Regions from separate parts of the Homo sapiens genome. Here region 2 is linked to region 1. A link means that fine-mapping ties the variant in region 1 to the expression of a gene that starts in the linked region. Tissue or cell type: whole blood. Region 1 holds a variant in brackets; the other region holds the start of a gene. All regions are shown on one strand. Distances are between the middles of the regions.

Evidence for each region. PIP is the estimated chance that this variant, and not a neighbour inherited with it, causes the effect.
Region 2: ROCK2 starts here. The variant in region 1 is fine-mapped to the expression of ROCK2 in whole blood (TOPMed, PIP above 0.99).

What each region holds. Positions count from the first base shown.
Region 1 is chr2:11,172,821-11,180,926 of GRCh38, reverse strand. SLC66A3 (solute carrier family 66 member 3) reads right to left here. Exons shown (of 7, transcript NM_152391.5): 6 at 5,918-5,959; 7 at 2,071-3,190. The coding sequence ends at 3,099. It overlaps ROCK2 (Rho associated coiled-coil containing protein kinase 2), which reads left to right. Exons shown (of 33, transcript NM_004850.5): 33 at 1-1,168. Among named protein-coding and RNA genes, the nearest start is that of SLC66A3, 21 kb to the right of the region's middle. The variant A/C (reference allele first, on the strand shown) is at 3,297.
Region 2 is chr2:11,339,760-11,347,865 of GRCh38, reverse strand. It overlaps ROCK2 (Rho associated coiled-coil containing protein kinase 2), which reads left to right and starts at 3,230. Exons shown (of 33, transcript NM_004850.5): 1 at 3,230-3,870. The coding sequence starts at 3,730. LOC124907733 (a long non-coding RNA gene) reads right to left here and starts at 2,354. Exons shown (of 2, transcript XR_007086216.1): 1 at 2,177-2,354. RefSeq lists silencers at 2,746-2,905, 2,976-3,045, 3,186-3,915.

The DNA.
Region 1 (8,106 bases):
GTTGTTTGTCCAACTAATGAAAATGCGCTTAATAAAAAATTCTGACCTTGGGTAAGAATTCGCTTTTTACCGCATTGCCGCTTTCATGTACATACATGAGTGCATGCACCTATCAATGTGTTTTCTTCCCAACACTTATTAAATATAAAACAACCTGATTTTGTGCTCGTTTCTCGTTTTTCTTGAGGCCCTGAAGCTTCCAAGATAAATATAAGACTAAAATTTGCTTGTTCCTTCACACCTGATTTCTCCTAGAACCATAAATACCTCCTATGGGGAACTAAGAAATCATGAATACTGGGATTTTCTTATTGGATTTTTTACTTTTGTTTTGTGGGGATAACGAGACAGAAGTGAAAGGAAAACTGGTGCCGGTATTACTGTTGAAATTAATGTACAGTGAATGTTTTTAAAGTATTAATTTTAAAAAACCATGTTCTCTAGAAACAAGTTTTAAAAATCTATATGAAAGTTTTAAAATGTTCCAGCTAACTAATGGATAAGCATACCAGTAAAGCCAAAGTAAAGGTTAGTGCCTTTAAAACTAACCTGTGTTAGAGTTACATGAATCTGGCTCTAAAGTATCTATTTTGCATCCATTTATATATAGATCTTAAACAGAAATACTCTAGGTTGCCACACCACAGTTTTAAGAAGTTATGCTGCTGCTGTTACTCTCTTCTAGGATTCTGGTGGTAAAGTAGAGAAACTCGGACACTATATTAACCTTACTGAAACATGCTTTAAATCGTGTCTAAAATCTGATTTGAGCAAGTCACTGCCGAGCTTCTGAGTCTGCATTGACACTGCTACTGACTCACCTCTCCTTCCCTGGAATAAGGCTTCAGCTTCCCTATGCTGTGAAGACACCATTTGTAAGCACTTTGAACATAAGCACTGTGTGACAGCGCTGGATATCATGCTTGGGGGGGGGCCTCTCCCTGACTCCCATCCCCATAATAATGAGTTTTGTTTGGAATTGTAATAAGTAATGAACTGCATGGTTTAGAAAATTATAAATATTTGATCAGCTGTCCTCTCTGAAAAAAATTGCACCCCTTTTTCTTTTTTAAAATTTTGTTGCATCTTCGTAGTAATGTAATTGTATTTTATGCCTGCTTTTTTATAAAAAAATAAAATAAAATAAATGGAGACATAAGCATTTTCATACTTCTCCTGTGAAATAGTCCTGGAATACGGCAACCTTCTAAAGTTTACCCAAAACATTTGCTTTCTCTATAAGATGGGTATAAACAGTGGGATGAGGATAGTAAATAAGTCTTAGAACTAAGGCTGTAGACTTGTGTTTCTTCTGCCCTATGATTTAATTCATGGAGAAATACCAAATTTCAACCAGGAGCCTGTCTCTGATCTGATTTGGGTGTTTTAAGACGCACGCAAATAATAGAACAAACTCATTTGAATTGGTAAGGATAGGGAAAAGAGGCAGGATGTCTGTTTTGTCAGGAAATAGTGTGCTGATTGATTGATAGGTGATTTTCTAGAAAGTGTTTCTCTGGCAATCAGTGGAACCTTTTCTAGGGCACTTATTTGCTATGTGCTCTTGGGCAGGTTATTCACTCTGAGCCTCCGTGTTTTCATCTGTAAAATGGAGATATAGATTGTGTCTACTTTACAGGATCACTGGCAGATTAAGTAAGTATGATGTGTGTAGAATGTCTGAGATGGCTCGAGTGTTTGTTGCCTTACAAAGGGGGAAAAACAGAGACCCTGTCACCTAAGTATGCTCTTAAAGGAGTTGCTTTAAGCAGTGATAAAGTACTAATGTTATCTAAATATAACATTTGTTGGACTAAAAATCATATAATTTGTATTGATGCTAATGGTCAGATTATAACTGCAAATGAAAAAAGATTAACTTGCATGTTTAAAAATATGACATCTGTAATTTTAACAACTACAGAATGAATAATTTTGTCTTTAGATACCATGTTTCTCTTCCTGTTGGTCCCAAGCAGTAGTTCTAAAAGGATTAACCAGTTTGTTTAAAAACTATACCTTACATAAAATAGTCATATTAATGATTGACAGTTTTAAGACTCAGCAGAATTCAAAATATGAAAATTTATTTTGCATAGGAAACAATAATCTCTGGTAAACATCATTACTGCATCTAACAAAACAATGCCTTCAATTAAAGGGGGAAAGTGAGTTTTTAAACATTAGGGTTAATTTAGAAGAAAATACAGTATATAATAATCTCAACATCATGTTTAGGGTAAAAATGCTATAATGTGAAAAAAGTCCCTAAGAACTGGACAGAACCTACCTAACAACACCATTTACCGTGTATGTTTTCAATAGACAAAACATATTTTGTACCAAATTCCAACAGTGGTAATTCTATAGTTGTGGCCCTTTAAAAAATGGCAGCATTGTACTTGAATCAGAAAGCTTACTGGGATTTCCTCATCGAAAGTAGAGATTGCAGCTAATCCTAGTACCTTTTGTTAGTAATTACTTAAGGCACAGTGCAAAGTTGAAGGACTGTTTTGGTACAAACTCAAGCCAGCTACATGTATGCTTGCCTTGGTATCCTTGCTAGAGCACATGCGGGTATAATACCGTATTATACACAACAAGGCCACCCTGTTGTATCTGTGTTACAATTAAACATCAGTCCCAGAAAGTGAACCCTAGTCATTTATTATAGGTGCCCACCTCTGACTTGGAACAAAATGCCACTCCATTCATGTTCATTTTTGTCCTGGAGAGGATTTATTTCCTAAAAGATTCTGAAAGCCAACAAATCAATGTAGTTCTTCATAGAGAACTTAAGAGTAAGGCTCAAAATGGCCTCAAAATGGGCTTCTTGGATGACTTCCAACAGTGACTGGCCTCAACACTGCAGATGTCTGAGCACTACCATAACCTAACGAAGTGAGGAAGGAGGAGGCAAATTGGTATTTTTAAACAAGAATTTAAGTGGCTCTTTCTTTCAAGTCTAAAAAAACCTTTGGCTTTAAAGATTATAAACTGATTTACTAAATTTATAAAAGACCTTAATTTAGCAAAGAGCTTCTTTTTCCTTTGGTTCAGTTACTCAAAATCCACTGTGTGAAGGAATAATGTATCCATCATTCAGCCTTTATAGCGGTCTTCCGGTAGCGAAGTACTGTCACTGTTACCCATATATTTAAAGCCAGCATGATCACAAAACGTAGAAGAACTGAAATAAAAAAAAAAGTGTATTAAAAACTGTCTTTACAATACAGACCAAAACCACCTCCTGCTCAAAGTATAAGCCTAAATAAAGCTTCACCCCCAACCTCCGA[A/C]ATGAACAATTTTGGTTCCAGTTATTTCTGGGGAAATGATCTCCCTATCATGACAATTTTTGGCCCCTTGGCCCAACTTCATAAATAATAATTTATCATCTTAAGTGCTCAATTGACAGTAATGTGGCTCTGGCTAAGAAGGGTTATAACTTTTAACTTTTTTTTTTTTTTTTTGAGACAGTCTTGCCCTGTCACCCAGGCTGGGGTTCAGTGGCCTGTCTTGGCTCACTGCAACCTCCACCTTCTGGGTTCAAGTGATTCTCCCGCCTCAGCTCCCCAGGCACCTGGGATGACAGGTGCCCACCACCACGCCTGGCTATTTTTTGTATTTTTAGTAGAGACAGGGTTTCACCATGTTGCCCAGGCTGGTCTCAAACTCCTGACCTCAAGTAATCTGCCCACCTTGGCCTCCCAAAGTGCTGGGATTACAGGCGTGAGCCACTGTGCCCAGCCTAAGAAGGGTTATAACTTTTAAAAATCCCTTTACTCATCTGACGTCCTGAGGGTGCTGCTGTCTCAGAACGTTCCATATTAAGCAAGGGTGGTTTAACATACTCTGTTAAGATCATCCTGAAAAACTGGCCCACAGGACAAGGCATATTTTATATTCAAGTAACCATGAAAATGTGTCTCTTTGTGGAAAAATAAATAAATAAATATATATAACTTTAACAGTGACTTAACTTCTACTTTAAGGTACGGATACACTCCTGATAAATAGGTTTAATGAGATTTAAGATATCTTTGTGTTTGAAAAACACATGTAAGATTTTAGCTGAACTGTTTTTAAAAAGTTATTCCCTGGCCGGGCGCGGTGGCTCACGCCTGTAATCCCAGCACTTTGGGAGGCCGAGGCGGGCGGATCACGAGGTCAGGAGATCGAGACCATCCCGGCTAAAACGGTGAAACCCCGTCTCTACTAAAAATACAAAAAATTAGCCGGGCGTAGTGGCGGGCGCCTGTAGTCCCAGCTACTTGGGAGGCTGAGGCAGGAGAATGGCGTGAACCCGGGAGGCGGAGCTTGCAGTGAGCCGAGATCCCGCCACTGCACTCCAGCCTGGGCGACAGAGCGAGACTCCGTCTCAAAAAAAAAAAAAAAAAAAAAGTTATTCCCAGGCCGGGCGCGGTGGCACACGCCTGTAATCCCAGCACTTTGGGAGGCTGAGGTGGGCGGATCACCTGAGGTCAGGAGTTTGAGACCAGCCTGGCCAACATGGTGAAACCCCATCTCTACTAAAAATACAAAAATTAGTTGGGCATAGTAGCGCATGCCTGTAATCCCAGCTACTCTGGAGGCTGAGGCAGGAGAATTGCTTGAACCCGGGAGGCAGAGGTTGCAGTGAGCCAAGATCACACCACTGCACTCCAGCCTGGGCGACAGAGTGAGAATCCATCTCAAAACAAAACAACAACAAAAAAGTTATTCCTGGATATACTGATCACTTTCAAGAACAGCTGTCATAGATAAGAAATAAATCACAATTAGAACAATCTTGATCTTTTAATTTCTAATGTATAGGTTTTGCTGTTTACTTGTGGTTTGACTTTCCTTTCCATGCTGAGAATTCAAGTCCTGTGGAAAGACCCAAGCCTGTCTTCCTTCCCATTTCCCACTTGATCAAAGTTTATGCTTTGACCAGAACAATTTTAGTCCTATCATCAGAGCTGACAAAAAGTATTCGAGCAAAGGTATAACCTCCAGGAAGAGACTAACAAACATATCTCTGTTCTGAAGCACTATTTCTCAAATAATAATTAGCTCATTTAAAAGGTCTACATGCTGGGGACATTTTCTGATCTTCACAGGTGACACCATCTGTTCTAATCATTTTCCAAAGATGTATAATATATGCTTGATTTGGGAGTTGAAAACAGCCTAAGGAATTACTAAATTCTTTTGTGGTTAACCATAGTATTTCCTCCTCCATGACAGCTTTTTCTTTTAAAGAAACAGAACAAAAACATAGTCCATTGGTGACACCACTTCCCTGCTTCAAAGCCTCCAGAGCCTTCCTACTGTTTTGTAGGCAGTTCTTGTAGGCCCTGGATACTTGGGCCACTGCCAGTCTCGCATCCTTCCTCTCCTGAAACCCGCTTGTCACTGTCCCCCTGCTCTCCGCACTCTAGCCCTTTGTCCTTCGCTCATGACCTTCACAATGCTGCTCCTTGTTAAGAGTCTGGCCTCCGCCCACATCCTTTCCTCTGGCTAAACCTCTACTCATCCTTACGATCACTCTTCTTCAAATTAATCTGCCCAACTCCTGCAAACTAGGCCAGGTTCTCCTTAGATGCTCATCCTGCCCTACTCTTCCAAACCATGTCCCATTAGAATTCAATAGGGAATTGTGTGATTACCTCATGTCCAATTCCACTGCTTAAGTGGAAGTTCCATGGAGATAGGAATCTATTGTCTTGTGCATAGTCTATCCCCTGTACTATAAGAAGGAGAGGCTTAACAATAAAAATGGTGACCAATAAGACTAGGAATACATTGTTGCCATCTTCTAAATCTATAATCCAACAGAGCCAAGTCCATCCATTAAACCCTAAGACAGTTTACAAATGAAGGAGACACAAATAGCACAAAACTCAAAAAGGAAGTGAGAAGATATTTTGCTTACTTGTAAAATCATTGGTGGTCATTAAGGTTGTGATTATTCTTGCTGTAAAAGAAAACTTGCAGCAATAAGTAACTTGCCTCTCGGACATTTTGGGGCTTAGCTAATAATGTCTTTCCCTTTTAATATCCCAATATATATTAACCATTATTTTTAAATTATTTTTATTCTTTTTTTAACAACATATATTAACTATTCTTGACAGAGTTTGGTAGTACAGAAAACCAAATAGTGCTGTATTTCATAATTACATAAAAACTAGCCATGCCGGATCACCTGAGGTCAGGAGTTCGAGACCAGCCTGGCCAACATGGCAAAACCCTGTCTGTCTCTACTGAAAATACAAAAATTAGCCAGGTGTAGTGGCGGGCGCCTGTAATCCCAGCTACTCAGGAGGCTGCGGCAAGATAATCGCTTGAACCTGGGAGGCAAAGGTTGCAGTGAGCTGAGATTGCGCCAATTGACTCCAGCCTGGGTGACAGAGCCAGACTCCGTCTCAAAAACAAAACAAAACAAAACAAAAAACAGCCATGCATCCTACCCCAATGGCCCAATGGTTTTGAAACTGCTCATGAGGGAAGGTACCTAGAAGGTACTCGAGCGCTGCCTGCGGAAGGCCGGAGAGACTGAGCTCCCTTCCACTGTCTCTGTGCTAACCTGCAACCCCCAACCCTCCAAAAGCAACTCTCATTTACAAATTGAGCATCTGGGTAGTTTTATTTAAAGAAAGGCTCCCACTAATTAAAAACAATGTTTTGGCCAGGCACAGTGGCTCACGCCTGTAATCCCAGCATTTCGGGAGGCTGAGGCGGGTGGATCATGAGGTCAGAAGTTCGAGACCAGCCTGACCAACATGGTGAGACCCTGTCTCTATTAAAAATACAAAAATTAGCTGGGTGTGGTGGCGGGCACCTGTAATAATCCCAGCTACTTGGGAGGCTGAGGCAGGAGAATCGCTTGAAACCGGAAGGCTGAGGTTGCAGTGAGCCGAGATCATGCCACTACACTCCAGCCTAAGCGAAAGAGCGAAACTCTGTCTCAAAAAACAAACAATAAATGTTTTCGAATCACTGGTTTCTATCCTTGCATTTTATAGATAAACAGACTGAGGCCCAGAAAAGGGGAAGATTTTTCCAAGGGTCTAACTAGAACTATTTTGTTTAGTTTATTTGTGTGCCATAGCCCTTTACTTAGTAAACATTTAGGAAATTGGAGTAACAGTTTAAACCGACACACAAGAGCAGGGAGTGGCGTGACTTGGGAGTTAGAGAAGACCACTGCCTGCAGCTCAAGGCATGCCTTTCCTAGCCCAAAACCAGCCTGTCAAAACTCTCTGCTAACACATTCTGCATTTAGCACATATTGACATAGAAGTTTTTTGGTCTACCTTCCAACTAAACTGCAAGCCCCTGAAGGGCAGAGGCCAAATCCTATAAAATGTTTTGTTGACACATTTGATAAACCAAGACTTTACACACAGACACCACATAAATAGTTGTTGATTAAATCATCATTTAAATAAAAGAATTCAATCATATAAGTAGACAGAAGACTTCAGTTAGGAAGGCGGCCAACAAAGGACTCTCAGACAAACTTTTTAAAAGGCTGTTAATAACCACACATCTGACAAGGGTTAATGACCAGAATATGTAAGAAACTCAAATGACCCAATTAAAAAATGGGCAAACCATGTGAACAGACATTTCTCCAAAGAAAACATACAGGGCCAGGTGCAGTGGCTCACACCTGTAATCCCAATACTTTGGGAGGCTGAGGTGAGATGAACACTTGAGCCCAGTAGTTTGAGACCAGCCTTGGCAACATAGTGAGACCCCTCTCTACAAAAAATTGGCTGGGCGCGGTGGCTCATGCCTGTAATCCTAGCACTTTGGGAGGCCAAGGCGGGTGGATCACTTGAGGTCAGGAGTTCAAAACCAGCCTGGCCAACATGGTGAAAACTCGTCTCTACTAAAAATACAAAAATTAGCCAGGCATGGTGGCGTGTGCCTGTAATCCCAGCTACTCAGGAAGCTGAGGCAGGAGAATCGCTTGAACCTTGGAGGCAGAGGTTGCAGTGAGCCGAGATTGCACCACTGCACTCCAGCCTGGGTGACAGAGCGAGACTGTGTCTCAAAATAATAATAATAATAATTAAAAATTAGCCAGGTGTGGTGGTGTGTGCTCGTACTCCC
Region 2 (8,106 bases), 170 kb before region 1:
AAAGGTGAAGGGACATGGGCAGTTTCTTCTACTCACGCTGAGAATGTAAACGGGTAGCGTCTTTTTAAAGGCCAGGTTGAGGCCCGGCTCTGTGACTCACCCCTGTAATCCCAGCACTTTGGGAGGCTGAGGTGAGTGGATCGCTTGAGCTCAGGACTTAGAGAACAGCCTGGGCAACAAGGCAAAATCCTGTCTCTACAAAAAATACAAAAATTAGCCAGGCATGGTGTTGTGTGCTTGCAGTTCCAGCTACTCAGGAGGCTGAAGTGGGAGGACTGCTGGAGCCCTAGAGGTGGAGGTTGCAGTGAGCCAAGATCTCTCGTGCCACTGCACTCCAGCCTGAAGGACAGAATGTAAACCTGCCTCCAATAAATAAATAAATAACAGGTTGGCAGCATCTGTATTTACAGTATGCCTACCCTTTGTTATGACAATTCCACTTTTAGGAATCTATACTATTCAAATATGAGGATACGAGGATGTCAATGGATCATTTTAACAGTGAGAAAATATTAATAATATCTAGCATTGATTGAGGGCCAGCACATTTCTAAGCACTTTATAACAAATATTGTGAGGACCCCGAGACACAGAGGAGTTAGGTAACTTGCTCAGGGTCACATGGCAAGTGTGTGTTTGGGGCAGGATTTTGGCAATTGTTTCTTAACCACTATGCTCTCGAATAGAGAATAATTACAGTGTGGCACATCCAAACTGGGGAGTAGAGGACAGCAGGTAAGCGGAATGAAGCAGATCTCTGCCTATAGACATGGACACGCCTCTAGGACATATTAGTAATGAAGGGAAAAAACCAAGTTGCCAAACACCATGATATGGTATAATTTCATGTCTGTGGGGAAAAGGTAACATGTATCTATAATACATATGTATGAGAATGGCCAAAGGCCTTGAGTGATATAAGAATGTATGTGGAAATATAGTCAGAACAGTAAATTTTAGATTATGTTCCATATATTTCTGGTTCGTTTGAACTTTTACAAGAATGCATTTGTGCATTACTTTTGAAAACAAGAATTGTTGTACTAACCTCCTCCTTACCCTTACCCCATCCTGCAAAAAGGTTTAACTCATATCAACAGATTCATTTTCTCTTCTTCCAGGTAGACAATGGGATAGGTCTTGGGTAAAAATCTTCTGTACCATGGCTTTTTCTGGTCTATATAAATAAGTATATGTAGAACATGCCCAGGATATATATCTTGTTGATCACTACTCTTAAAATAAGGTTTTCATGTTCGGTATTTGGACCATGGCTTCCTGTTATTCCACCAAGCTACATACAAATATACAACCAGTCAAAATTAATTTGGAAACTGAGAACCACAGTGTTTTTTTTTTTTTTTTTTTGAGACAATCTCACTCTGTTGCCCAGGCTGGAGTGCAGCGGTGTGATCACAGCTCACTGCAGCCTTGGCCTCCTGGGCTCAATGGAGGAGGCCTCCAACTCAGCCTCAGGGGGAGCTGGGACTACAGGCACAGGCCACCACGCCCCGCTAGACAGAGTGCTCCTTTTGCCTTGCATATTATTTTGTCATCAGAAAAATAATCCATAATCATAGATTATCTCATTATTTTGCTCCAATGCATAAGTGGGAGTGTCTAGCTCCCTCTGTTCTCCTGGTGGCCTCTGTGGAGGTCTGAATGAGTAGCTCAATACACAGACTTAAAGGACTCTCTGGATGTGAAGTCAGTGTTACTATCTGAAAGGGAAAAGCTGCATTGGATGGATCATCGGGGCCTCTTCCTGCATGAGTCCAGCTAGGGGTGGTTTTAACTAACCTAAAACCAAAGAAGAGGCTCCAACTAATCCAATGGTTTGGATCAAAATGCAACTTTTACAGGGCTGGGGCTTCACCCTATCTTCGGGTTTATCTCTGACATGCCAGGGAGACAGTTCTTAACATTCTTATTACTTAATGGATATCAGATTGTTGCTTTTCGGAGTGGTTTTTCCATTTTTTGAAATTTAATTTGTTCTTAAGTATCTTTACAGAAAAAAATCCCATTTATTTAAGAAGTACTGTATTCTCTGGTTCTTATAGCTGCTCATTTTACATAGTTTTAGTGTGTACAAACGATTTTTTTTGTTTCATTTATTTCTAATATACCTTCTCATGTACTTGCCAAAATTTCATGTTTGACACAGTCTGCATACCTGCCAGGATTCTTGCTGTTAATGTGAAGGCGCCTGTTTGGGTTACTCAATTGTTGGACAACTGGGCCCATTCCCAGGTTTTGGTCATCACGAACATTGTGAATAGCCCTGCTGTTAACATCTTTCTGCAAGTTCTCCCCCTTCTTCGCCCTTTGGATCATTTCCTTGGAAATGTACTTCCTTAAATGGGTTTACTGGGTCAAAGGGGCTCTATGAACGGTTTTATAGCTCTTGGCACATAATTTTCGGATTGCGCCCTGGGCGGATCTAAGCGATGGCACCGGCCGCCGAGAGGGCAGGAATGCGGCGGAACGGTCCCGATAACCACCCCTCTTCCGCCCCCCAAAAGGAGAAGACCCCGCGAAGGCCTGCGGCTGGAAAGCCTTTTTCCGGTGCTCTCCCGTTCTCTTGAAGTGGTTAGTGTCTAAGCCGGGCAGAAACGCTTTCAGGATCCCAGGCCCTCCTGCCCCAGGACTAGGATTCCACCCGCCTCCGCTAATTCGGAATCCCAGACACCCAGGGCCCCCTCTCAGGCTCGCCTCGAAACCCCCGGCCCTGCGGCCCCTCGCGGGCGCCGAGCTCGGTCGCTATTATTTGGGCGCGGGTGAGGCGAGGCCCGCATAGCTGCGCGCTGAGTCAGCGGGGGCCGCGGCGGGGGGCGCGGCCGGGCTCCCCCCCAGCGCACGGTGCGCTGGGCCCGGCGTCTGGGGTTCCGCCTCGGGGCCGCGGGGTAGTCCGCGGGGTCCGGCGGGAGGGGCAGGGGGCGCGCGGAAGGACCCGGCCTGGGTGCGTCTCCCCTCCCCCAGCAGGAGCTCGGCCGTGACCGCGCGCCCGGCTATTCGCCTCAGAGAACCTCGCCAGGGGGAGGAGGCGAGGGCGGGCGAGGAAGGGGCGCAGAGGAGAAAGCGGAGCGGGACAGACGCAGGAAGGGAAAGAAAGGGAGGAAGCGCGGTGCGCGGGGCGGGGCGGGGCGGAGCGCGCGCAGGGCCGGCGGGGACGCGCGCCGGCGGCTGCGGGCGGAGGGGCTTGTGGGTAGCGGCGGCGCGCGGCCGGAGACGGGCGGCCGCGCGGGAGTGTGTGCGCCGGGAGCTGGCTGAGGGACTGCAAGGCGGCCGGCGGCGACCATGGCAGCGGGCCGGCGGCGGCCGTAGTGGCCCAGGCCTGGGCTTCAGCCTCCCGGGGCCCCAGAGGGCGGGGCGGTCCGGGCCGCGGCGGTGGCGGCGCCACTTCCCTGCTCCCGCCCGAGGACTCCTGCGGGCACTCGCTGAGGACCAGCGGACCGGCGGCGCGAATCTGACTGAGGGGCGGGGACGCCGTCTGTTCCCCGCCGCTCCCGGCAGGGCCGGGCCGGGCTGGGCCGGGCTGGGCCGGGCGGGCCCCTGGGAGCAGCCCCCAGGCGGGGGACCGCCTTGGAGACCCGAAGCCGGAGCTAGAGGCAGGCGGTGGGCCCGGGTGGAGTCCCGGCCGGAGCTGGTGGTTCGGGGGCGGTGCTAGGCCCCGAGGCTGCGGGACCTGAGCGCGAGGAGCCTGAGTGCGGGTCCAGCGGTGGCGGCATGAGCCGGCCCCCGCCGACGGGGAAAATGCCCGGCGCCCCCGAGACCGCGCCGGGGGACGGGGCAGGCGCGAGCCGCCAGAGGAAGCTGGAGGCGCTGATCCGAGACCCTCGCTCCCCCATCAACGTGGAGAGCTTGCTGGTAGGTGGCCGGGGCCTGGGAGCTTGCTCGTTGCAGCTCACACCTCAGATCCCCTCTCCGCCCAGCCCTCCGTGCCCGTCCGCCCGTGGGGAGGGGGAGGTCTTGCCCCACCCCGCCCTGCTTCCGGCAGCCGGGGCCGGAGACCAAACGATTCTGTCACCGAGTTCCAAGAGTAGTGACCCGCCTTTGATTCCTCCCTCTACCTCCTGCTGGAGCCAGTGTCATCCCCGGCTGCTCCTTTCTTGCAGCACTGGGAGGAAAACACCCCTCTTCTCCTTCCGCCTGCCCACTCTGGGGAGGTGGGTGGAGGACTGGCCATGCTTCATACACCAGGTTAGCTGATTTGAAAGTGTCATGCTACGTGGGGACTTGGTGCGAGCGAGGGAGAAAGAAACCTGATGCTGTCCCTGTTGCGAGTACTCACTGGGGTACATGACAAAGAGCCGCCCTCACTCTCTCCTTTTAGTCTGAAATCTTGGAACACACAGCTAAAGTTTTGCTGTTTTCACTTGCGTTTGAGCATTCCATACTTGCTATTTAGTGCATTTTAATTGCTGTAAATTTAATTCCCTGAGATTATTGCGCCAGAGCCAAAAAATCAGTCTGAATTGTGGAGTGGAATAAATCTGTCCTCTTCATTGCGTCTCTTTCCTATAACGACCTTTGAAATCCAGATTAATAGCACCGTAAAGGCTGCTAATTGGCTCTTGGTTAAGAAAGGAGCATGTTTTACAAAATAGAAATGCACCGTAGAATGCTGGCTTATTTCTTATTTTTGTTAGGATAGATGATTGTATTTCGCAATTTGAGTAGTGTGCAGTGTAGATGCATTTATGGGAAAAGGGGGTGTGGACTTTTACCCTGGGGAGGGGAAGAAAGGTGAAAACGATACTCTGTGTATTAAATTGACTCTGGAAGACTAGAACTAGGGTGGGAGGTCCTTAGATCCGTTAGACATTCTGTGCTGGAATGCAGATGTTTAGTTCTATTCCCTCCTGGAATAAACCTTACTGTATGATGAGAAAAACTGCCTCCTCCCTTTCCAGGGACGGACGGACTGGCTTTTGGTCAGAGGCGGTTGGTTATCCTTTGAGGTTTCAGGCATCGTTTGCAGAGTGACTCAGTCCTGTTTGGTCAAAATGCAGGAACTGACTTTAGCTATATAGTGTCTTTCTGCACAGTGTACAGAAAGTAATGAATGATGTGCTATATTGTGTCACATGTGTTTGATGTTTTACTGTTTTTCGGGTTAATGTGTTGTTCCTATGTTTTAATGGGAGCAGTCTTTGAAAGTCTTTAATCGGGAGTAAGATTGCTTGCATGGATGGCATAGCTTTTCCTAGGCTAAAGCGGAGACTCTGGGCTGCACTCCCAGCATTTTCACTTTGGTATTTTGCTAGCAAAACTTTGACCTAAGGCCAGAAAGTTTAGTTAAAAATAGTACAGCAAATCTCAAGTATTCATCAGGTTCATGCTAAATCCTAGATGGAAACGTTTTGCAATTCACTTTGATATCTTAGATCTTTAATGATATTAATCATAATTATTAGAGTTATTCTGAGCTTGAATGTAAGTAGCTTATACATGTAATATGATCATGCATTTTGTTTTATTGCTTTCCAAATTATTAAAATGGAGGCTATTTTTAAAAGTGAAACATCTCACATGTTCAGGACACAGTTCATTCATTTAGCAGTTATTACAGCCAAAACACACTTTTATTAAGGTGGCACATTACGGATCTGAGAATTGACATCAGGTGCTGATGACTTGACAGACTCTGTTATTGCTGTTTCTAGTTGGTTAAATATGCTTGAGGTGCAGTAAACCTTTCCAAGCCAAAATGCGTCCCTTATTCCTTTGGAGCAAGGTTCCTGGTGTTTCTGTTACAAATTGATAAACGAAATTTAAAAATTTTTTTATAATAAATTAATTTTAAATTACGCGTATTTTATTTATGAACTACTAGAATGGATTTTTTATTGTGGTAGCGTATACAGAATTTACCATTTTTAACCATTTTTAAGTGTACAGGTTAGTGGCAGGCATTAAATACATTCACATTGTTGTGCAGCCATCACCACTATCCGTCTCTGGAATCTTTTCATTTTTCCAAACTGAAACTGTAAATTAATGTTTAAAAGAATGTTATAAAAATTATATTTCCTGAAATACTGACGAAATAATGGCTGGTATCACTTTAAAGATCTGAAACCTTAGCATTTAGGTTGCATTTCACTATTGGTCATTGTTTTACTGCCTATGACATTTATTTTTTGGTTTTGCCATGGGAAATACATATTTTGTCTTTAACAGAAAATTTAAAGGAATATAATTTAAAGCAAACACAGCTGCGACACTACATTCAGGAGCTCAGAAAGTACCATTAAAAATAGTATATACCTAAGATGACAAAAGAAGATGAAGTACACCAGAAATGATTGTATGATGCTTTCAGTGGGCTAGGCCTAGAAGGTAAAACTCTGTAGGAAACAAAGTTTTATGAGATAACGTGTAAAGTGCTTAGCCTAGTGCTTGGTACATCACAGTGCTCATTAAATTTAGTTCACTTCTCCTGTGCACACTTAGCATGTTATTAGTTAACTGCTTTAAATTTTCTTTTCAAAGGAAAATGGTTTTATTTGCAACTATTTCTTGCTACATAATTTTGAGTGAGTAGCATTATCATTTGAATTTGTCATCAGAAAAGTGCTAGCAATCATTAGGCATAGGTAGAGCTGGATTCCAAGACTAAATCAGTGTAAAGATGACATCTTGTTTCTCTGCAAAGGCTCATGGCTTTATGTGGGTCCTTAAATTAATCTGAGAAGAGTATATCTCTTTTATGGTTGCAGATTGTGAGCCGCTTAGTATTACTTAGAGTTTTGCTTCTCTACTGCCTCTTTTTTTTTTTGGAGGCGAGTCTTCAGTAATATGCTTTTGTAGTGTTTGAAACCTTTGGGTAAATACCTATGCTTTGTTGTCAAGACCAGCTTCTCATACTGCTTACCTATTATGGTAAAAAGAACTGTGTTTCAGGCTTTGCTGAAGAGATATTTTTCTAAAGGTCTGTGCTTTTTGAGTGTTGATTTATTTTACTCTTTCAAAGAGTAAACAGTCACAATAACCTGTAGGACTCACGCTTGGGTAAACTCTTACTTAAGACTTGTGTGGATGGGCAAAGGTGATTAAAACTTTGTTTACAATTTTCAGTGGCATAAAACATAAAATAATTTGATTGATTTCATTATACTTGTAAACTATCTGACAATATTATCTCAGTGCTTAGACTCTTTCAGCATGCTGCTGGTTATTTGCCTAGTTAAAATAAAATTGTATGTGTATTTTTCCCATCATGTAATAAGTAAGAACATTATAAAGATACAATAAAAATGAAATAGAATAAAAATTAAAAATCATTTTATACATTTTTTTCTTTATGAAGAGTTTGGCATTTATAGTGTAAAATTTGTGACTAGTTTACTTTAAAACTTTCATGTTGATAGGAGATATTTAAAGAAAATGAGTTAGCTAGGGAGGTTTTAAAAAAAAGGTGATGTGTGGAACTTACTGTTGATGTGAAGCAAGTGCAGGTCCGCAATCCCTTATCCACAATTTTGATATATAAAAAACCCAGTTTTTGGTAAAATGTATTTGATGATAACATCTGACCTAATCTCACATTAGAATACTTGTGGTCTAGTCATTCCTCTTGATGTAAATAATAATGCCTTTTGCTGGAGGAATATGAATGTATTTGATTTCAGGGTGTTGCCCAGATTTTCAAGAGCATTTTTGGGAGTACACAGTATATGTACTGTGTACCTTTCTAAAATCCAAGAAATTCTGAGTTCGGAAACATTTTGGTCCCAGGGTAAGGCCAATGTAGACTAAGTAAGGAAATACGGACTTACATACACTTCAGTAGCTGTAAATAAATAGTGGATAATTATCTTGAAACCTAACTTTTTTGTTTTTTATTTCCCAAGTCTTGATCAGATAGCCCTCTTTTTCCCATTTTGAATTCTAAAAATATAGTATGCAAATATAAGTTACGAAGCGTAAAAACATATTCATGAAATCACCACACAAGTTAATAAGTGGAACACTAGCCTGTAGAAGTTACCTGTGTGCCGTCGCCGCTGCTGGATTCAGTCTTCCTGCATCCTCTCTCATCTGCTACCCTGAACATTTTATTGTTCCTTTGCTTCATTTCATAGATTACTACATTTGTGT